Homo sapiens: one gene and its partner. The protein of the gene in region 2 purifies or fractionates together with the protein of the main gene of each other region. This does not show direct contact. Each region holds a gene or a part of one and is shown on either strand. Other genes may lie near its edges.

Region 1 (11,900 bases), on a different chromosome or scaffold from region 2:
TACCATCTTTAGTCCATATTCTGGCAAACCCATCATAGGAACCAGTTGCTAGAAGTGTACCTTCACTCTGCCAGAGAAAAACATTTCTTTAATTATATAATCTAGATACGGTATTTAATTGTTGTTAAAGTATTTCATGTTTAAATCCCAGGTACAGAAGAGAATGAAGACATTCTCTGCTTCAAAACTTGTCAGTTTTGCCTACTTGTGAGTGCCACTAAAGGCCTATGAAACCCTTCCACTGTGTGACACTAATGTTGTATGGGGGCCTTATATCCAAAGTTCAACAACTGACAGTGATTGCTCTGGACCAGGATCTACATCACCCCACCTCATGCATGCCAAAAGTATTCTCACAGACTCACACAACTAAGAATGAAGGTAGAGTGGTGGACTGGGAAGAACATCAAATTCATAGTCTTACAATGATTTATTAGAAGTAAAAAAGAAAAACTTTAAAATATGATTAGAAGGTTTTATATGGCCATTCCTCTAAATCCTTTACTGTCTAAAACGAAGTGTGTGGGTATGATCCAAACAATATCATTGTTTCGAATGATCAGATTCTTAAATACTTGAATGTTCCTTTCTATTATTAATCCCTTCCCACTATGAAATATTTGCCAATAAAAAGATCAACAAGGAAAAGAGCCAGAAAAGAGCACAGGCTGACTTTATAGTTAATGAAGTAAGTACAACTGCCTACTTTACCAGGAGGAAAAGTCCATATAAATTTCTCTCAACTTATATTCCCTTGCTGTGCACCTTGCCTCGATGAATTGTGTAATAAAAGGACAGATCTAACCTACTCTATGCAAACACAGAAGTTACAGATTATAGTAAACAGACTATTGCTAGAATCAGTAAACATTACTGGAGAATGAAATCCTGCATTACTTGACATATTATTGATGGTTTTTGGTAAGGGCATTCAAAACAAGATCACCTATTTCACATCTCTCAAGCCATTTAGCAGTATGGCTAAGTGACAAACAAAAACAAATGCTGGTTCTGGGAACTGCAGACTCAATTCTGCTGGGATGTGGCCATCCCTTAGGGCTCTGTCTCAAGAAGAAGGGGAGCCATGTTGAAGTCAACAGTAAAAGCTTATTTCCACATCCTACACAATGTCAAGTTTCCTCTAAACTATCAGTCCCTAAATGTTTTAGTTCATGAACTGCTCAACTAGGAAAATACTGTAAAGATGAGAAATCTCACAGGCTCTCTTGCTTTAGCCATGGAAAAGAATCATTAATCGAGGATAATGTTTTCCAAGTTCACCGTGAATAACACATTTTTTAAAAGCCCACACTTTTCAAAACTATAAAATGCAGTTCAGAACTACCAAGCTCAACAAACCAATATTCATTAACCATCCTTTTCAGTGTAAACTATAAATTTCATTAACATGGCCAGTGGACCAGGTAGCGTAAGAAAGCTGTAAGATATCTGAACTAAAATATAATAAGGGCCCATATTAAGAAAATAATTCTGTCTTGATCTTACAAGTAAATAATACTACAATGTGCTAAACCCCTTTGGAATTTTTAGAATTGTCATATGGAGGGGAAGAGTAAATATGCTGCTGGCAATTTTGGAAGAAAATGCTAAAAATACCTAGCTATGATTTCTGAAAAAACATTTCACAGAAACTGAGAACTTTAGTGGGGATAATCATTTTAAAGATAGATCTCATTCCCGGGGAAAAGAATTGGAAGATCCTTTAGAAAGTCCACAAAGGGTTGTTAAACAGAAGAGAAAAGAACATTCATTTGCTGAGCAAAGAACAACTATCTTGATATTCTTTGCAATGCTGAAATAATCTAAGAGTTTTGGGGGAGGGGCAGGGGGTAGCGGAGCGAGGTAAGAGATGTATTTAAAACTATAATGGTGAGAATTTATCAACAACGAAGTCAAAGTTTTTTGTAAGTCACAGTAGTCAAGTTGTCCTGAAAGATGTTGAATCATACACAGAATCAGAGAATTACAAGATTCCTACAGTGGGAATAAAATTCAGACGTTGTCTAGACTAATGATCCCTAAAAGGAAATTGGTAATAAAGTTCTACCAGTTCACAGAATACAGAGAAAAACAAGAACATGTTTTTTGCTACACAGAATTCTTTTATCCCCTAAGGACTCGGTTGTTATAGATTTAGTATGTTGTTTGTTATTATGGTAAGAATTTTCACCTATTATCTCAAATATTTAGGTACCATTTTCACACTTCTACTTGACATTTAAAGAAAATGAAGTACAGAGTAAAAAGTAACAATTTAACCAAGGATATGCTGTGGGATACACTGAAGAGCTGGATGTTGAACCTTGGTCTGACTAAGGCAAGTCTGTGTCCCACAGTGGGGGAGAGGGCTGGCAGGGGACGACTCCCGGTTTGTTGTTACTAGTTAATAAAACCCCAAATTCTGAACAAATAGACAAACCCTGCCGTGAGTATGAGGCTCTGAGGGTTAGGTATACTAGTAATTATATCCATCATGGATATAGTGATACTCACATTCCAATCTAGAGATGTGACATCCTTGTTGCTTGGAACATCTTGCCCTCCTTCTCGTATACAATGTCTAAGTACTAACTGTGTAGAGCCACTGGTGCTGTTCTCACTAAGATTCCATATTCTTGCTGTTGAGTCTCCAGACCTATAAAAGTATGCAATATATTTTAGATCCTCATGACATTCTCACGTATCAGAACAAGGCAACATATTTACATCTGAATATTAATAAGGCAAATAAAAACGACTATCACGAATTTTCATTTCCAGTATTTTTCCCATTCTACACGTTGGGACCCCCAAGCATTCTCGAAATAGTAAGTTTAATTAAAAATTCTACAATTACTTCATGAAGGAATAAAAAATTTACAGAGACAAAATGGCCACAACTAAGCAACAACAGAAAACCTGAATAATGCATATGTTTATAAAATGTTCAATAAGATATTTTTAAGTCATTTTAGTATCACTTTGAGAAACATACCCTGATGCTAGGAGATCACTAACAGGGTTCCAGGCACAGATAAAAACTTCAGATTCATGGCCCCGCAACACAACAGCTTTATTAGGAGGGATTTCAACATCCCCATCCACTTCCATCATATCAGTATGATTATCTGCATCGTGAAACACAAGTAAGCATTTCCAGTTAGGCAGTATTACAACATGGTGGATGGGTGATTTCTTAACTAGCAAATACCTTCCTTTATCGCACACAGTGTAACATTTTTCAATTATATCCAGTTAAGCTGAACATGACTACACAGTCTTAGTCACACAGAAAATAAATTCTTATCTTTAATTAAGTATTGACCACATACTTTTTTTTTAGAGGGGTGGGGGTGGGAGTGGGATGGGAGACTTTAAATGATTAGACCTAAACATGGATAAAACGATAAAATGGTTTGAATTAAATATAATGTCTATCAGTACTATTCTGAGTTTCTGCCAGTAGGGGTTGCTGATATCATTCATATAACATGAGTTGCCTTTTATCTCGATGTCAGAGCTCTATGGTTATTTGTTGATAACTAGTATTACAAATTTTATTTAGAAATCAAATGTAGATGTAAAAATTCATTTAACAATGGGAAAAGGGTTTCTAGATATTTTAAAAAGAAAATAAAAGTAAATCTAGCTTTTTGGAGCTTTAGGAATAAAAATCTGAATTGAACTGTGTGATACAAGTTAGGGAAACAAGTTGGTGCAAGTTAACAGATGAAATTATTTCAGCATAGAAGATGGGGCATTTCTTCTGAGAAAAAATTTTTAAAAATTCTTGTCTCCTGGGACCTTCCTGGGGGGTGGAGGGTGGGAGGAAGAGGAGGATCAGAAAAAATAACTATTGGGCACTAGGCTTAGTACCTGGGTGATGAAATAGTCTGTACAACAAACCCCTGTGATATGAGTTCATCTATATAACAAACCTGCACATGTACCCCGAATTAAAAGTTTAAAAAAATAAATAAATAAACCATGTAATTAAAAAAAAATTCTTGTCTGAGCTCACTTGCTATAGTATGTGCTCCATTCTCCTCCCCATTTGCTGTGTTTTCTCCATTTTTTGCAGATCCTTGTTGGCTGGCTGCAGCTGCGGCAGCTGCAGCAGCTGCTGCCTGTTGCTGTGCAAGCTTATCTCTATAAGCTTGTTGTCTTGTTTGTACTACATCAGGCATTACGGCATCTATCAGGGACAGAGACTCTATTGGTCGACCATCAAACAAGGTACCATCCTGGATTTGGAAAATTGTGAGAGAAGAAAAATCAAAGGCAATATTTAAAGTTATTTGTATTTATACAAAATCAGAAATGAAATGAAAATCTTCGTTCCTAAAAAAACATTTTTAGGAACTTTCTGAATTCATATAAGAAGTCCGGAGGGAATAAAGAAACTACAAGCAGCAACTGGAAATGACTGCTTACATTTTCCTTTTCATTTAATTCATACTATTATTACAGTATAGAGCTGTACAGATAGAGCTGAAATGAAAGAGATAATAAGATGTAGGCCGAGCTGATAAAAAGGCTTATTAATTAGATTCTGAAATTCTGTTAGTCAAAGCAACAAACAATATGGAATATAGTTCATATAATGATCAGAGGCCTGGTGCCCCATTATAGTAAATACATCTTTTAAAAAACTAAAAACTTTGAGCTGAAGAGTTTCTTGTGATTTGATTCAAATATTAAAGCAGAAACAGACTTCATGGGGCTATAGTGCTCTTGAATATTAGGGAGTTATTAAAATTTCCAAAGCTCTACTTATTGATATTAGGAAGTTCCTAATAAAGAGTTCTCCAAGTAAGCACAAGAAGAGACACAAACACAGAACAAGTCAGAAATACAAACAGTACAAATTAGCTGGGAACATGCATATGTGAAGTCTGGTTCACTTAAACTGGTAAACATGTACCAGTGACAATCTACAGTGTTATTGCAGGGTACTGTGAGCTGCAAAAACACAGCCTGTCTTTCTAAACTGTCCATTGTAATGTAATATTTCAGGAACAGGAGAAAGTATTTTAACTTATAAATAATTTTTAAGATACTAAACCCAACACAGATACACTGTGGAATAAGCGCCATGTCAAATTTACACACATTTTAAGAAAAAATTTAGTTTTGCGTTACTGGATGGTCACTCAAAGAGCTGAGGAAACAAACAAATCCATTTTAGTATATTATGTAATTTCTAATTCTAGTAATAATCATTGATACAGAAATCATAGATACTTCAGTTTAAAAATACTCGCAAAAGGGGAACATGTTAATCTCTGAAATAGAAGTAATGGGAAAAGCTCCTCACTATAGATAAAAATTTTAAACTAGGCTGGGCGTGGTGGCTCATGCCTGTAATTCCAGCACTTTGGGAGGCCGAGGTGGGCAGATTACCTGAGGTCAGGAGTCAAGACCAGCCTGGCCAACATGGGGAAACCCTGTCTCTACAAAAATTCAAAAATTAGCTGGGCATGGTGGTGGGTGCCTATAATCCCAGCTGCTAAGGAGGCAGAGGCAGGACAATCGCTTGAACCCAGGAGGCGGAGGTTGCAGTGAGCTGAGATTGTGCCACCACACTCCAGCCTGGGCAACAGAGCGAGATTCCGTCACACACAAAACAAAACAAAACAAAAAACAAAAACAACATTTTAAACTAGACCGGGGTTTACAACCTTTTTCTGTAAAAGAGTAGACAGTAAATATTAATTTAGGCTCTGCAGGCCATAAGGTCTCTGTCTCAACTACTATTATGCCATAAGTAGCCATGGACAATATGTAAATGCATGTGGCTATGTTCCAATCAAACTTTATTGAGAAAAACAGGGAGGAGCATTTGGCTAATGGGCCACAGTATGCTGACCCCTAAGCCAAACAAACTACTCACATGTAGTCCTTAGATAGGCAGTACCATCCAGAGTTGGCTTCAATTACAAACTGGTTTAAATTTGGGTATATTCAAATAACGTGAGAATTTACAATTTTCAGGCCAATAATTATGATCTTAGCATTCCACAGCACAATGCTGTTGTGTTAATAAAAATTCTTTATTAGTGTTTACTTACACAAACAGATTAAGGCAAACAAACTACAGATAATGGTCCTTACAACTAGGCGCCAACACCTTGCCGGTGCAACCTGACTACCACATTAGGGATGAACTGCCTGCACTTTTGTTAACCCTGTGAAGCTAAAGTCAGAATACTGAATAAGCAAGCAAGACAGCTGACTTAACGGCATATTTAAGATGAAAAAAATCAGTATTTGAAATAAGTCTTCCTTACCTCATTAATACTAACTTCTGCTTCTACATACTGTAGACCTTTCTGGATGATAGAAATCAATGCAGCGGGTGGGACGAGGGCACCATTTATATTGGACTGACTGATATGGCTTTCTATACCAAAGGTAAATGCTGAATGAGAAAATCCTAAAAACAAAAGAAAAGGCATGAGAATTTATTTTCCTAGTGGCAACATGCTAAATGACACAGAAAGAAAGATCACCATCATCTTTTCAAATCCCATCCTACCCATTTAAAATCCCAGACGAAGGTCGTGTGTGTGTGTGTGTGTGTGTGTGTGTGCGCGCGCGTGTGTGTGCATGTAAACATGTCAGCCTTTACATACTTTCTTTTTCTCTTAATGTACTCTTTAAAATTTCTAGTAAATACTTGATTATATAGCTTCAAATTTTCTAAAATGTCATGGTACACAACTTTTCTTAACAAAAAGCATCAAATGTAAAAGGTAAAACAAGTCTTTGGAAATCATATAATTAAATTGCTTCATTTAAATCAGGCCAAGACAGATTAAGGGACATTTAATATTTCTGTATTATATTTTAATATTTTTTACATCTAGAATTAAGGAACTTTATTTCAAATTTTCTTTCATCCCAGCCCAGTTCAAGTATTCAGCATCTCTCAAAAGTGGTACACATAATATGCTTTAAATAGGAATTCATTCATTCTGAATGATCTTCATTTACTTCATGTAATTGTTATCTACTACGTAGTTATAATTCAATAATGTCTGTAAAGCAATCTAGCACTCAGGTAAAATCTGAAGTATTTAAATTTCTACATATAAATTGTCAAACATCTGATAAATTCAGTATTTTGGAGCTCTTTGGAACTACTTAGGAAAACTAAAATAATAAAAATAAATTCAAATATTAAAAAATCATAACGGTTAAATCTCATTTTATGTATGAATTAAGTGCTTTAAAAATACCAATTCTTTGCCACTTAGTAATAACTCATCTATATGAAATATTTAAGAAATGAACAGCTAGCAAATGATTACCTGGTTTATAGGTCTCCATCAGCAATTACTTACTCTTAACTTGAAATACTTAAAACCAAAGCACTTACTTAATAAAAATCTCTTTATGTTGGCCTTGCTTTTTATTAATATCTAGTCAAAATTCAAAGGTAAAATTCTAAGAAGCTGATAAACCAAGGGTGGTTATTTTCTTTACTGAAATATTAATCACCATTTATCATTAAGTAGTAATTTCTATGAAGTATTTTAAACAATTCAATTAAATTGTACAAGTAATATAGAATATTAATAAACATTTATACTAAACAAAGGAAATAAATACAGGCTTATTTTGGGTCTTGGTTAAACTGATTTAATCTATATAGTATGTCTGTTGGCTAGCCTGTCTAGCCTAGTTTTTTAGTGTTTAGTAATGTCTTTTTTGGATTTTGTGCTTCCACTCTTATACTCCTTGTGGTACTTATAAACAGTCTAGTAGAAAATACTGTGGGCTCACAATTTCCTAGCATGTGGCTAGGAAAATTTGGTTATTTGATAGTCAGAGTACACCTAAGTTGATTTTCCTTGTAACCCCTTCCTTCTCTCTTTGGAACACCTAACTCATTATGCTCACAACATCTAACCCACAGTGGAAAAGGCAAGTGGAAAAATGTTACCTCTAAAACCTTGATTTTAGCCCCTGATTTTGCCCATAAGCAAGATCATAATTAAATGCATTTATAGTTTTCATAGTTTTCACCTTAATCTGGGCTCACAGAGATACCAATCGGGGGGCGGGGCGGGGGTGGGGGGGTGGGGGCGGAGAAGCACCGTTTTGAATTGTCCCTATCAGGAAGCCCACAACTATCTGAATATGAGTAGATTCCAGATCACCAAGGCAGAAAACAGAATAAGGATGAGGGAGGATGGGGAGAAACAATGAGAGACATAGCAGTAAAATCCTTAAGCAGTGAGGTTGGAGATTCCTGTTTTCAATTATATAACCCCTCCCTGAATAAATTCACAGTAAATCATCCATAGTAAAAACAGCCAAACGCCAAGCAGCTTAAGAGATTTAAGAAAACTTCAAGACAGAAGACATCATTTACAGAGGGCCTATACCATATGCTAGATACTGTGTACACACATATAATTTTATTATTTTATAATCTAATGGAAAATCACAACTAATAAATGAGAAAGTACAGATTCAAATTCATTCAGAGACTCTACTACTCCTCTTGAACAGTTAAAATATGGTCAAGGATAAAGCTAAGGGAGAGAGTGAGCTCCTGTTTCCTGATAGAAAGTAAAAGACTACATCACTGTTTTGTTTTCATCTCAGGGTCCTGGAAAGTGGTTGCACAGTGCATGAAACACTGAGCCATCTTATTGCCATATTTACTGCCAAGGTTTTGAAAGTGTCTTGACTTATGTAATGCTTATAAATTTGTTTGAAGTACATGATTTCTGTATACTTTATTCATGACTGCAATTTAAATAGTCAAAATTGTTAAATTTGGACCCTATTTAATTAGCTTATAGAGTTTAAGTTTAAAGTAATAATATGTCCAAGAATAGTCTAAGACTTGCAGGTGGAACTGTGCCAATTTCTGGCTGGAATGTTGCAGATATCCTGAATTTGTTCTGTCAGACCAGGAGAAAAACTATCACAGGTGCTTACATGCATCTCAAGGTACTGCAGATGTACTTAGGATGCTCTCAAATAGCAATGAAACATCCCTGAAGTAGTCATTAGCATTGTTTTGGCACTTCTCACTAATGTTTACCCTAGAGAAGTTCCAAACTTAAATGCTCTGCTTAAATGTTGAATTCAACTAGAATATTTTCTTTATTTCTAGCCATGGCATTACATAGCAGTTTAAAATTACTATGTTCAAAATCAATTTTCTTCTTCCCCTCCCTAAAACTACTTTTCCTTAGAAACTTCTGATCTCATTTCACTACACCTGAAAGTCATAGTCATCCTAACTCCCTCTTCTCTCTCGGTCCCTTGGCATTTGACAATTTACCAAATCCTACCATCCTACTCCAAATCCTACCACTCTACCATCTGTAGATGCTCATCACCTTACCTTTTCTGCCAGATCTGCGTTTAGTCCCCATTACCCTTTGCTATACACATTTCTTTCCCCTCCTCCTCAATTCAGTATATATGCCAAGCTACAGCTAGACTATTACTTGTAAAACAAAAAACTGAACATATCACTTCTTGCTTGAGAATTTTCAATGATCCCCTTGGCCTTCATAACAAAGGTCAAACGCCTAATTATGGCACACAGTTGTTTCTGTAATCTGGCTCTTCTGTCTCTCCAGTCTCATCTCAATACTACACACCCCGTCTCACTCCCATTACACAATAAATTCAAGTGGTGGCAAATTACATCTAACATCTTGAATATGCTGTGTTATACATCATGCCTCTGAGCCTTATGTCCTCCTTTGCTCTTTCTCCTATCTGAATGGAGGTGAAATCCTCTTTCACTACACCAGGGCTAACCAGTCTCTCCTACGCTGATCCTAGAATTTCTGTATGTGTGGCACTTACCACACTGGTTATCAACTGTGTGGCTATGGTTGTTTGCCTGTGTGTGACTACTAGACTGGGATCCTGACAAAAGGGTTTAAGTCTAGTAATCCTTTAATTCTGGGAAACTAGCACATTACCTGAGTCAACAAGTACTCAATAAACATTTTTTAAATTAGAATGCAATTATACTATAATGTATTTTGGCACATCAAAAAAATCTGTGACTCCAGAAAAAGCATATGACTTAAGTCTTCCTTGGAAAAATCTAAAACTTGAACTAGTTTTGTGCCAGAAGCTATTTCCATTTATCTGTAAATATATATATGCAGAAAAAGGCTTTTTCCAGGGACAGCTTTTGATTTATATAATAGGAGGCAAAAGAGACCACCTAAATCTGTTAGATGTTAAAATCCGGCATGACCATCTAAAATAGCATCCCTTCTTTCCAAGTGTAAGAGCAAATCTGATAGTACCTCTGTAATCAAGTACTCTAAACACTGACTAGGGTATTGAGACTCAGGGAGAAGAGAGACTCCAGAAAGAAATAAGACTGAAACACATGAAGTATATAGTCATTCAGTGACAGAGACGAGCAACGACAGCTGGCAGGGAGTGGGGTGGCACGCATGAAGATCACAAAACAGCCATTTTCTATAGATCGCTTGTTTCAGGAAGTGCTTTCTGTAAGGATGTTAGGGACTGTGTTCTCAAAGGGGAGTTAGTCATACAGAGCCTGCCAACTCTACCTTGCAAATAGGCAATACAAGAATAAGAAAATGGACTCTGAACACCATGATTATGGTACAGGATGACTAGATGAGACAAACTGGTAAAAAAGGCAAAGCTTAAATATGACCACAACATACTGCCCTAGTCTGAAACGAAAATCTGATTGATCCAAGGTCCTATATAAGCTTCAAGTCAGAAAAGCTCAGCAAATTATACTCATGTTCTCATCATCAAATGCTTTCTTGACTCCAACTCTGCCCTACAGATCCAGATTTTAGAAAAGGTAAATAGGATGGGGAAAAAATGACACAGGGGATCTTTGTTATTGAAGAGCTAGATCTAGTACTGATACACTAGCTATAAAATTTCGTGCCCTAATTTTGCCCTTAAAAATACATGTAACTATGAACATTTTATATAAATAATACTTTCTGAAATAATTTTAATAGCATCATAATATTCAGCCAGTAAATTATTCACGCCATAGCTGGACCTTCGAACTTTTCCAATGATCACTATTTTAAAAGAATATTACCTCAAATATCTATATGTATAGGCTTTTGCCATGTACAATGTGTGTTGTTTTTTTCTCCTTAGGATGGATTCCCTCAAAAGCTGAAGGGGATATAAGCATTTTAAAGAAGGTTTTCATCATTGCCAAATTGCTTTCCAAAAAGATTATTAATAATGCCAAAAGCAATTTCCATGTTTCCTTATACTCTCGCTATGCTGGCTAGTCCTAAAAAACATTGAACAAATTCTCTGTTTGGCAACTATTAAAGGACCATTGTCCCTTTGATAAGTGTGCTAGCAGGAATGTGTAATACGAATTTCCTGTGTCAGCAAAAAATGGTAATTCAGCTTACAAAAAGAGGAGAAAAACTTATTTGGGAAAAAAAAAGAATTGTAATTATCAGCATTTATGACAACTGCTTGCTGTTTATTGTCAATTAGTCATGGATACAACCATGTGTGTAAAATCAAGGTTATTCTGTATTTCATTTGATTATAAAACAAAACTATATACCTACTTGCACTTCTGTAGCTGGTCATCTACTGATAAAAACTAAAAGGCAGACTGAAGGCGGACATACCAGACGCTGAGCTCTCTTCACTGCAGTTCTTCATGACTAGAAGCACATTACTGATAACCACTTCAACCTGACTCCATCGAATACACTGGTAATGTCTGTTCATAAATGGCACTGGGCATAAGGTACATAGGAAGGAATGGCCCAGTTACCTTTATCTGAGTCAACAAAGAAACTGCACTGTAATATTCATTAGCCATTACAGACCTAATGTGAAACTGCTACAATGAAACAAAAAAATGAATGAATGAGCTATAT
Region 2 (12,357 bases):
CGCCACCAAGCCCAGCTAATTTTTGTAGCAGAGATGGGGTTTCACCATGTTGGCCAGGCTGGTCTTGAACTCCTGAGCTCAGGTGATCCACCTGCCTCAGCCTCCCAAAGTGCTGGGATTACAAGCGTGAGCCACCATGCCAGGCCAAGTGAACTTTAAAGTTGTAAGTACCACAAACCAAAACTAACTCAATCCACTATCGTATGCTAGACAGGCATGACCTTAAATGCTGCAACCAAGTTGGCTATTACACAGGTGTGATTACACAATATCATCTTTCTCAATATTAAAATTCAGGACCAAGAATTTTTTTTTTTAATTTACTTATTTACTTTTTTTTTTTTTTTGAGACAGAGTCTCACTCTATCGCCCAGGCTGAAGTACAGTGGCACAATCTCGGCTCACTGCAACCTCCGCCTCCTGGGTTCAAGCAATTCTCCTGCCTCGCCCTCCTGAGTAGGTAGGATTGCAGGCACCTGCCACCACGCCCGGCTAATTTTTGTAATTTTTAGTAGAAATGGGGTTTCACCATGTTGGCCAGACTGGTCTCAAACTCCTGACCTCAAATGATCCGCCTGCCTCGGCCTCCCAAAGTAGTGAAATTACAGGTATGAGCCACCGTGCCCAGCCTATTTTTAATAATTAATATCTGATATGTCCTAGTCTTCTGAAGGAATGTTTCTTCCTTTGGATTAACTCTAAATTAAGCAGCCTAAGAGGTGCTAAGAAATTACCTCTGTCCAATTGTCGTAAAAATAAAGCTACATAGATCATTGCTTATCACGTTGACCTGCATGCAGATCCTTTCTAAACCCAGATTTCATATTTGAAACAGTTTTGAAATACAAAATATTTTAATTAAAAATGATGAACAAGTAGTTTACACATATTATAGGTTAATTATTTACTCATTAAAAGACGTAGTGTCTGTTTTGATGGCATCTTAATGCAACACATCAAAAAAGAATTCTTTGTTGACCTGTTGCATTGAAAATGTCCAACATCCCAAAAAGCTTAAATAGTTTTGGTAAATAACCAAACGAGATTTCCAATAAAACTGTAAAATTCACCTAACAATAAAAAAAGTTTTTCTGTCCAAAAATAAAATCCAATTATGAGCTGTTCATGAGGGAAAAAAAGAACTGATTTCATATCAAGTGAAAACATGTTATCTCGTGAAATATAAGACCAACTGCTTTTCCTGACTCTGATTTAAGTAAAAAGCATCCTAGTTACCAATGGTTAATAAAAACTTCTTTTATCCTTAAAGATATGAATTAAAATCTAATTAACTTACTCTGGGTCACCTTCATTTGATTTTTAATGTAGCACTTAGCATGGAAGTTCACAATAACAAAAAAACAATTTGTTTGCATCATAATATGGTTAATTCTTATCTCTTGCAATTGCTATTAAAAATATTGCAATTGCTATTAAACAGAGTATTTTATATAAAGTAAAATACTCATTTTATATTATACAAAGTAAAATACTGTTTATTTTATATAATGCAAAATACTCATTGTTTAATAGCAATTGCAAGATTTTTAGTTAAATACCATCCACTTCCAGTTTAGTGTAGAAAACAATTTCAACAACAAATACTGTTCCTCCATGTTAAGTAAATTTGTAGGTAATACAAAAAATTATTCTTTCAATGTCAAGAAAAAAATAAGGCTCCTCCCAACATCTGCACATTACAGAACAGGTAGTAAATACGAGCCACTTCAATTTTAAACCCAGCCTAAAAGCCAGTAACATTCACAGAGTAATATTTCAAATAGTATTCCACTCGTTAATTTGCCAGTCAACATAAAAATTAATTTTACCATAAAATAATTATATTTTCAATATTAAAAAGTCTCATAGATAATCTATCATGAAATTGGGGGAAACAAGTCTCACAGAATACAAGTATTTAACATTTATTCTAACACATAACAGGGAACAGTCCCTGATCACCCTACATATTTGAGATGTAAATGTGTTTGCTTCAATAAAAGATTCACATCCAAGAAATAATTAAGCACCTACCATCTGCTAAAAACAAATCCTTTGGAGATAAAAGCTTTTACACATTATTAAAATATTTTTAAAATAGTAAACATAAAATAGCATCTGTTGAGAAAACTGCATACTAGTATTTCCTAACCAGTTTTGATAGCTCTTCAAAGTTCTGTTAGTTTTACACATTTTAAACACACTATGGTTGTACACATTTAAGTCCCAGTAGTAGTAGCTTCCAGAAATGCAGAGCTGTTAGGGTTTACATAAAACACACCTTTAAAAATTAAACCACAGGTTTCTTTAGAAGATTGATGAATGAAAACGAGTACATTATTCTTGGAAATTAAGAAGCCAATTTAAGAAATTATAATTTCCCTAAGACCACTAAGATATGTACTGAGGGGAAATTTTTCTCCTATTAATTAGCTTTTCTCCCTACTGCCTCAATAGACTCAAGAAGTCCTAGAGCTTACTGGGGGCATATATGGCAATGATTTCTCTCTGGAAGCTGTGAGGAAGTCAGACGAGCCAAAATTGTAGGGCAGTTATCAGTCTTACAGAGTTGACGGGAAATGGAGACCTGTCAAGGCTCTACACTTAAACTGGAATCAGAGAGATCCTTTCATTTACACTGACAACGAAAGGATGTATGATCAAAATGTAGGCTCTAAAAATAAAATTAACTCTCCAATTACATTATAGTTCTCTACAAATCCACTTAAACAGATAAACAACTAATCCTTCAAACTCAGCTATCCTAGAACAAAGACCATTTGACTAGTTTCCCCCAAGGAACCAAATTCTTTCAAAACTCTCTGGGAACAAAAATTATGCCTAACCTTCTAATAAATTTGCCTAGACAATCCTAACTTAAAACACACATAGTAAATTAACAAAAAACAAACAATTATAGCCTCGTGATTTATAAAGTAACCATTCAAAATAAGGTACAATACTTAAAAAAAAAAAAAGCCAGTATCATTTTACAGGAACTAAAACATCAAAAAAAAAAACAAAAAACAAAAAAAAACCACCCACCACCACCACCAAAAAGAAACAAAACCTAAAGCAATAAAGCAAGCCAATATGAAGAAAGCTAGTAAACTGAAGACAGCTTTTCCTATAATTTCTAACTTGGTATTTTTCATTTGAAGCCAAATAAGTTCAATTGCTTTGTCTGTCTAGACCTGACCAAGGTCTCTATGAAGAAAACCATCGGGCACAGGCAGTGTTCCCTCCTATGGCCACATAAATCAAATTTTTAAGAATACACTGATTTTGTATATTGAATAGTAAGTTTAAAGTACCAAGCTTCTGAACCACAGACCTTAATCACCCAGCCTTTAAAATAAATGCACAATCTTTACACAGCAGTGAATGATCTGGACTTAAATACTTGCTCAGATCAAAATACAAATGAGTACTGACCCCAAAACCCTACACAAATTTCGCCCACTACCCACCAACATTTCACTTTATAATAAAATATTTCAAATATTCTAAGTAAGGTTGTGTGCTCAGTCTTCCATGATGAAGCTCACTGGTATGTAGAAAATCCTTGAGCCAGTTATTTCTCTAATTATTTCGTAGGCTAGAACCTTATCAACCTAGTTGATACAGTCACCATATGAAGTAAATGCTGCTCTAAAATATTTACAATGGAATAAAAGAATCATGAAACAGTGTATACTCTTCAACCTTTTAAAGTACTACTGGATTGAAAAGCACTCATCTTTCCGTTGCTCCACAATCAGAATGGTCATTAAATGTCATTAATGGCCCACTCACATCTCACTGCTTAGTTCAACCCAAAAAGAACTCCCACTACGAAAGTGAATTCTAATCTTTCACACTTTAAAAAATTCAGTTAAATGACACCTGACACCATTTAATTTTCAGTCTCAGTCTGTAAGTTTCTGAAAATAGCATAAAATGGATTCAAGACCCTATTATGGTAATGTTTTTATTTAAGGTCTATTAAAACAGACTAAATTCCACAATCCTATAATAGGTAAATGGGCATATTTGAAGAGGAAAAAAATCCAGAATCGGAGCCTTACTTTTAACTTACATAATGATGATAGTATGCTGTAAGACGATTGTTAAAGGCAGCATGAAGCTTCACTTTACCAAATACACAATAAACTTTGAAAATTCTTAAGGAAAGCTTAAATACATGGGAAAAATGGATGGCAAAATATAATGGCATCTCTACACCCAATGAAGTAACAGGTTTAAGCTTGTTTGTACAGCTCCCTAAAATTTAAGCTAAAACACAATACAAAAACCAAAATCCACAAAATGGGTCAAGAGGTGGTTGGGAAATGTCTTACTCTAGATTGAAACATTTAATCATATAAAATAGATGATACTTATACAGTTACTAAACATTTTAATCTACTTTGGCATATTGAATAAAAGATGGTTGGATTAAACCAAACAAAAACTATTATTGGTACCCAAATAATTTTTTTTTAATGTTGAAGCGCACCCATCATCACCACTGAAATTTGCAAGGCTGTTTTTTTTTTTCAAAAGTGGAGACATTTTATTTGCCTTTCAGGAAAAACGAATCAAATTAATCAGCTAAAACACAGCACTGTAATTTGCAGTAAAAAATCAACACATTTTTGTAACTGGCTCGGGGAAGGAAAAACAGCCCAGTCTTTTCATGTAAACATAATAAGCCTGTAATATGCTGCAGACAAACGCACTGCATGGGGTGTGGAGGACCCGAGCTGATTAGATTACCACAACATCAGCCTGGGGCCGCCATTTTTAGAATCTGTAAAGGACAAAAGAGGGAAATTTCAGTTTTTACTCCCCATCTCAGAAATTGAAGGAAAAAAACAGACTATTTTCCAAATAGGTATTCATGTCTCCAGCCTCGAGTTGAATGCACCTCACTTAATTCTCTCCAAGGTCTCCAGAACTCCAAACACCTTACCTTATTCACATCTCTAAAAAGGGAACAAAATAGGCAAAACGAGGTTTACTCTAGAGCTAACTCTAGCGATTCCTCTTTGACTTTAAATTGTATCGTTCTTAAGACAGAGCCCAGCAAGGACGGATCTATACGGAACTAAGGCCAGTAGAAGAGAGCACTCTGGATTGTTTTTTTCTCACCCCCACCCCGTTTAGCACAGTGAACCGTTTGTTTCTCATCTGTGTCTGCTGCCATAGAATTTGTGCCAATCCCTTGGTCAAAATAAGCTTTTCTGAAATGAGCCATATTGTAGATCCTAAGGCTCCGGCACAGTAAAGGACGGCGGTAATGCAAAAGGAGTGGGGGAGGAGACTGAGAAGGCTGGGTACTGGGGTGACCACTTCAGGGGCGGGTTTACCCTCTCCAGGAGAGGATGAGGAGCTAGCTGTCTCGCTCTCCCACAAAGAGAGATGCCCAGGGCGTTCTTCTTACCCCCTTCGTATTCATGTGCACATTATACCAGAGACTGCCCGTCAAGAAATGGAAGAAGAAAATGGGGCCTATATGGCTTTTCAGCACCTGAACAAGACGCGGTTGAGAAAAGGGAGCGCTGGCAGCTCCTGGGACCACTTCGACACAAACCCTACTAACAGTCACAAGCCTCCGTCTTCACTCAAGCGGCCTTAACCCGCTGCCAATGAGGAGTGCGCCCCCTCCCTAACTCCCCCACTCTCAAGGGGGTTTAACTGCCAGTTACCCCTTTCCCAACCCTAAAACCCGCCATAATGCTCCATTTCTAGGGTCAGGGAGAAGAAAGAATAAATTCGATTTAAGCAAGCAACGTCTTGCGCCGGCAAAGACACCTGAGAGTCAACGTCGGCTCCCCCAGCTTAAGGATAAAGATGAGAGACCTCCCTCCCCCTTGAAACACAAGTACCCCAACCCCGCAAGCCCCAGGAACTCCCATGGAGACGACAGGCACTAACCTGTGATGTTCACACACGAGACACCCGAACCCCGTTATGTGCTCGACCCCCAAGGAGTCTCTCCGCACCTCCGCGAACAGGCGACCCCCCGACAGCAGCCACTGCGGACACAGGACCCGGCTCCACACACCCCCTCCCCAAACAGCAGCGCGCAGCCTCTTCACCAGGAACCGAGGAGTAGGGGAGGGGGCAGCCAGGCAGTCAACAGGAACGCAGAGACGACGGCGAGGCTGCTCGGAGTGTCTATGCCCACTCTGTTGCCGCTCCCGAACTCCGGCACGGTCTCCGACTCGGCCCCCTGCGCCCGCTCAGTGTCACTGCCTCTCGCTCTGGGAAAATGGCGGCGGCGGCGGCGGCGGCCGCGGCGGCGGCGGCGGCGGCGGCAAGTGCACGGGGTACGCCCGTCCCGCTCCGCAGGGGCAGAGGGGGAGGGGATGAAGCTGCCCGGCGCCATTTTGCTTGTGGGCTGCCGCCCGCCGTTGCCTCTCCGCGGAGGCTCGAAGATAGCAAACTGGAGGCGGTGAGGGGGACGGAATCTCTGTCTTTCTGACAACAGATGCATTCAACAATCCACCGAAGGTTTGAGGAAGTGTCGGTATTCGGTGGGACTGGTTCTTTCCCCCTTTCCCCCAGTGGCCCTCAAGTCTGGATATAGGTGAGCTTGGGCATGCCAGTATTGGGTGCACGAACAAGGACAGCAGGGCTTGGGAACGAACTCCCTCCCGTCACCCTCCGAAAGCGATACACCTTCTCCCCCTCCCAAACAACCCCAGTCCCGTCTCCCCGTTCCTCTCCCCCTCCTCCCCCAGCCCAGTCTGGCCTCCAGCGCTGGGTGAACCCGGTTGGGGTGTCACTCGACGCCCACTAGGGGCTGAGGAGGCTCCAGTGCGCAGGCTCCGGGCACCGGATAAAAGCGGAGCTGGCGAGTCTAGTGCTGTCTCGATGGAGGAGCAAGAAACGGAAGAGGTCGGGGGGAGAAGCAGCCGGAAAAATGCAGCCACCGTCAACGCCGCCTCCCTGCCACCGTGCTTCGGGGTAAAAAGCTGCCGTTGCCGTCGGTGCAGTTGCCGTCGCTGCCTCCTATACTTCTCTTGGCCTCGGGGAAGGATTTCCCCACCGGTGGGACAATGTGCGGGGAGGGGAGTGGGAATTCCTTTATATGGCGGTGATTAAACGAGGGAGGGACAGACAGTGATCTCGAAGAAAAAAGGGGGAGACCAAAGAATAAAAGAAGGGTTTCCCCACTAAAATGACACGGCGATTCCGGCTCTTGTTTTGGGGGTCTTTCCCCGAAATGGTTTCCGTCTTCCCCTTGCCCCGCAGCGACCCAGAGCGCTGGGGGAAGCGGAGTGGGGAGAGGCAGAGGCGGTCTCGGCAGCCAATCAGCGCCTGATGTGTCCTGTCGGGCGCGTCGTGGTTGGCTGGCGATGACCTCATCCTGCAGCAGCGGGTGGGGCCAAAGCCGTAGGGGGAGGCTGTTGCAAAGGTAGAGAGGGAGAAGTGACGATGGTGATCGTTGCTGCCGCGGCCGATATGGAACCCAAGCAGTGGCGAAGGGAATCGCAAGGCTCTTCCCTGACCATTTTCTACTGTCCCTGCGCGAGGTGAGGGCCCCGGCTCGGCCTCTGCAAAACTTTGGGGCGCTGGCGCGGAGGAGGAGACAGGATTTCTCCCGTGACTTTTGTAACTGCGTCAGGGCAAGATGGCGCTGGGTCTCTTTGGGGCGCGGGGGGAGAGGCACGTCCACCGCCGCAGCGCATGTGACCGGGCTGCATTCCTGTGGGGTTTGGCTCCGACCCAGGCCGGGGCGGGGGAGGGGACAGGGCTTGGGCGGAGGAGACTGTGGTGCGGTCGGCGTTGGCGGCCTGAAGAGGAAGAGATGACTGTTGGAAAGCGTTCCCCTCCCCCATACGGCAGAACAGCTGCGGCTCCCAGGGGAAAGCCCCCGCAGGACAGTCCTCGTGGGGTGTGACGGCTGTTGGTGGAGAAGGTTTGGCGCCCTATTTTCTTATCTGCCTTTCTCCCCGCAAAGTATACTTATGTAAGGTGGTAGTTCCCTGACGTGGGACTCGGAATCAACTAGGAGTCCTTGAGGGCCTCTGGGAGGCCTAGCGAGGGGTAGACCAGCTTCTGGGGGTACAACGTCAAGGAGGATCGATTACTTTCTGAGGAAACAGTTTCTCAGATTGAAATAGAAAAGTATTTCCAAAGTTTGGAAACAAATTTAAAGGTGTAAATAACACCCAGGAACACTTTAATTGCTTTGAAAAGGCATAAGCAGCCATCTGAATTTAAGGGCCCTTTTCAGACTCTTCCTTCCTCCTGTGATTCCTGTTCTTTATTTCAGTTTTCTGTCTGTACATCCCTTAAGAATATAGTTTTGTCGGTGGGATTCGCTCTTTTGTGCCCAGGCTGGAGTGCAGAGGCGAGATCTCGGCCCACTGCAACCTCCGCCTCCCCGGGTTCAGGCGAGTCTCCTGCCTCAGCCTCCCAGGTAGCTGGGATTACAGGCGCCCACAACCACACCCTGCTAATTTTTTCTATTTTTAGTAGAGACGGGGTTTCACCCCATTGACCAGGCTGGTCTCGAACTCTCGAGATCCGCCCGTCTCAGCTTCCCAAAGTGCTGGGATTATAGGCATGAGCCACCGCGCCGGGCCTGCTTTTTTTTTTTTTTTTTTTTTTTGCACTGGGCATTAGTAATACGGAATAAAAGCCGTGTTTTAAACTGTATTAAGTTGTAAGACTTTTCAGTACTTTCAAGTCTGCTTTCTTTCTGTTGCCCTTTTGTAGTTTTTAAAAATAAAAGATGCAATTATAAGCACTTCCGGTGAATATTATTCCTTAAGGTTCCTGCATCATCATGAAATTTGAAGCACTTTTATAGTAGTACAAACTATACTTTTAGCTTTTGAAATCTCGATAGGAGAAAATATCCAGCAGTTTTAGGGGCTATTTTGGCATATTCATTAAGGTAGACTAAGTTTGTTTTTCGTTTTTCCCACTTAGCCAAACTAGTTAAAGTAGTCAAAACTAGCAAATAATTTTTAAAGGGCTTCTCCTTTTGGGTGGTGTAGAGGGTGGGGAGTTATTCAACAAACACATTTGCAGCCAAAATCTGGCCTACTTCTTGGCAGAGCGCTTATACTTGGTGCTACGAGAAAATGATTGCTGGACCTGAAAAGAACCTGAGGTCAAGGTTGTGCTATTTCCTTAAGTCTTAGTTGTAGGCTCTTGGTAGTTTGAAAACAAGATTGGGTTTTTAATTCATTTGTGTATCCTTAAATCCTCACTAGTTTTTGTGGATTTCTTTTTTCAGTTATAAGCAACTGAATGTGGATGAGCTATAAATATTTAGTACAAAGAATGTAATTTGTCCACTCTGAATAGAAAGTAAGCATTAAGAACTCTTGAATGTCTTCAAGGGTTACTTTGTTACGTGTAAGATGTCTCCCCTTCCTTCATAGCAGTTTTTATTCCTGCTTAAAAAGGGAACTAAATATGAAGTCAGTAGATTTTAAGGTAATTTTCAGAATGTTTCTACTTTCACCGTGCCTTAATAAGGAAAAAAGGCCATTTTCCAAGCGAATGGAAACACCCTTTCCTTGTTTTGTGCCTTTAATCAGCGTGTACCTTCATTGTTCCTGATTGCCAAATCCACGAACTTCTTGAGCTCTCAATTTTTCTTGACTTTCCTATGGCATTTTAAATACTGTTCATACTTGGAATTACTTTTCTTTGACTGCCTTCATACATTCATATATTCTGCCTGGGCAATTTCATTTGGGCCTATTATGTTCCAATACCTCTCCAATTTTCACCTCCATCTTAGCTCTGCCAGCTTCAGTGCCACAGGTAGGCAATGTAAAAGTTTACTGGGGACCACAGGCTTTCTGAGCTCAATAAAAATACTAAGCTTGGTACTTGTTTTTTAAGAATTTTCTTCCCCCATCCCCTCACAAAGATTATTTGAGTAAATTACACCCCAACCTCCTTTTCCTTGTTTTTGTTGAAATTATTGTCTCTTAACTTTGGAACATTGCAGTTGCGGTAAGCTTACTAGGTTCACATAGCATATCTTCTGGTGTGTTAAAATTAAAATGCACACCATCTCAAAAGTGCTATGCCATTTCATACCTTTGTGCTTTTGTCCTGCTACCTGGAGTGCGTCTTTCTCACTTCTGGATAATACAATTTGAACCTTTTCTTTGCCTCTTGAAACTGCAAAATCCCTACTCGCAAGTAAATGTGTCATTCTTTATGTTGATAACCCAGCCTAGTGCTTGACACTTGATGGGCATTCAGGTATACATGGTTTTTTAGAGATTGATAAGATTAACTGTGCAGTCTATAAACTGTAAATACTGGCTTTTAAACTCTTTTAAAGGAGCTCTTTTGATAAACAATTTGGATAAGAGATGAAAGGTTAGGGAGGCTCCAGGCAAGGCAGAAGACTGCTGATGGCCCAGAGATAGTTCTGCCCCAAAAAGGTGGGAAGAAGAAAAAAACTGAGCTGGATATTTTTAAGGAAATATATTTTATAGCATTTTTCTTTAATGCCTAGTTTTGCTGCAAGCACTGAAGTTTATCCTGCATTTGTATTTCTTATTTGAAAAAGAAATGGCCTTTGGGGTTTGTTTTGTTTTTTGTTCCTTTGTAAGCACACTGCAAAAGCGGCGTTGTCAGCGTTGTCTTTTGAGGTATCAAACGTGCTTTCAGTCAGCAAATATCTTGTATATAGTACCATTCCTAATAAACTAAATTGGTTATCAACCTAATACAAACGGTACTTCATACAACTTAAGCCTAAACTAGATTAGATTATGTAGAAACTTATTCTTAGAGAATATATCGCCTTAATATTTCTTATCCTGAAAAGAGTATTTCTTAAGTGCCCCTCTCAAAGTATATCGATTAATATTTGTCTCAAATTTAAAACTATATCCTGGTTTTTCCCTTACAGTTGTTTAGCAAGTAAATGTTTACTTACTAATTTATTTTCTCCCAGACTTCATTCTACCAGTTTAAGCTTAGCTCAGTTTTGTTTTTTGGTTTTGAGAAGGAGCTTTGCTCTGTCACTCAGGCTGGAGTGCAGTGGTACGTTCTCAGCTCACTGCAGCCTCCGGCTCCTGGGTTCAAGCGATTCTCCTGCTTCAGTCCGTGAGTAGCTGGAACTACAGGCGCACACCACCACGCCCAGCTAATTTTTGTATTTTTAGTAGAGACAGGGTTTCACCATGTTGGCCGGGCTGGTCTTGAACTCCTGACCTCAGGTGATCTGCCTGCCTCAGCCTCCCAAAGTGCTGGGATTATAGGCGTGAGCCACCGTGCCCATCCTAAACTTAGCTCAGTTTTAATGCTACTTCCATTTCTTTATGTATAGTTTGATGTAAGAATAACAGTTGGAAGTAAGGATTTAGGAATAACAAGAGTTTGGGATTTTTGTTTTTTTAATTAGCAAGGTAATGCCACATCAGGTCATTAGTGACATTAATGAGAGAACAGGGGAATTATTGGAAAGTCTTGACTTAAGGCCAGACGAGAAATCCTTAACTGCTAGTGTGACTTCCCTCCCCACAAAAGAGAATGCTCTCGTAATACACCGAACTGTTGGATGCTGTTGTATATACTTTATATATAATCTTACCCAAGGTGGCAGAGCATTAACTTTAACATCTGTCTCCCTGACCTCACCAGAGTTCATAATCTTTGCCCTACTTACACTGTCTGAAGGATGACTTGGCCTTTTTTTTTTTTTTTTTTTTTTTAATTGAGACAGAGTCTTGCACAGTTGCCCAGGCTGGAGTGCAGTGGCACGATCTCGGCTCACGGCAGCCTCCACCTCCTGGGTTCAAGTGATTCTCCTGCATCACCCTCCCCAGTAGCTGGGATTACAGACGCTTGTCACCGCGCCTGGCTAATTTTTGTATTTCGGGGTTTCGCCATGTTGGCCAGGCTGGTCTCGAACTCCCCACCTCAGGTGATCCGCCCATCTTGGCCTCCCAAAGTGCTGAGATTACAGGCATGAGGTGTGGCACAGGACAGAGAAAGACTTACTTTAAAACATACCTGTCTTCAACCCAGAAGAGACTGGCTTTTAGAGCCCTCAATGTAGCAAGAAGAGCCTGAATCAGAGCAGGAGTGATAAAGAAGGAATCTAAGTTATTACAGAAACATCCGTAATTGTTGCCTGGGTGGGTATAAGGAAGAAGAAGGAATTGACTTTCAAGAAAAATAATTGACATTTGATAGTCTTCACAGATAAAAGCCAAAACAGGGTAGATTCAGTCTTAATAGGAGACAAATTTAGCAAGAAAGCTGAGATCTTGGGTCGGTCTACATTTTAGGCCAAGGAAAAGGAACTGATTGCATTTGTTTTTTAAGATAGATTATACGCCAGTGCATAACATATTTAACCTAAGTCTGATTAGCTTTATA

Evidence for each region.
Region 1: the proteins of KMT2E (region 2) and TBL1XR1 purify together in Homo sapiens (affinity purification with mass spectrometry; 2 studies listed by BioGRID). This does not show direct contact.

What each region holds. Positions count from the first base shown.
Region 1 is NC_000003.12:177,047,483-177,059,382, forward strand, and holds part of TBL1XR1 (F-box-like/WD repeat-containing protein TBL1XR1), read right to left. Parts: intron 6,437-11,900; coding exon 6,291-6,436; intron 4,245-6,290; coding exon 4,022-4,244; intron 3,129-4,021; coding exon 2,996-3,128; intron 2,657-2,995; coding exon 2,515-2,656; intron 442-2,514; exon of another isoform or gene 152-441; intron 68-151; coding exon 4-67; intron 1-3. UniProt on the Homo sapiens protein: F-box-like protein involved in the recruitment of the ubiquitin/19S proteasome complex to nuclear receptor-regulated transcription units. Plays an essential role in transcription activation mediated by nuclear receptors.
Region 2 is NC_000007.14:105,008,098-105,020,454, reverse strand, and holds the start of KMT2E (inactive histone-lysine N-methyltransferase 2E), read right to left. Parts: upstream 6,251-12,357; 5' UTR 5,920-6,250; intron 1-5,919. UniProt on the Homo sapiens protein: Associates with chromatin regions downstream of transcriptional start sites of active genes and thus regulates gene transcription. Chromatin interaction is mediated via the binding to tri-methylated histone H3 at 'Lys-4' (H3K4me3).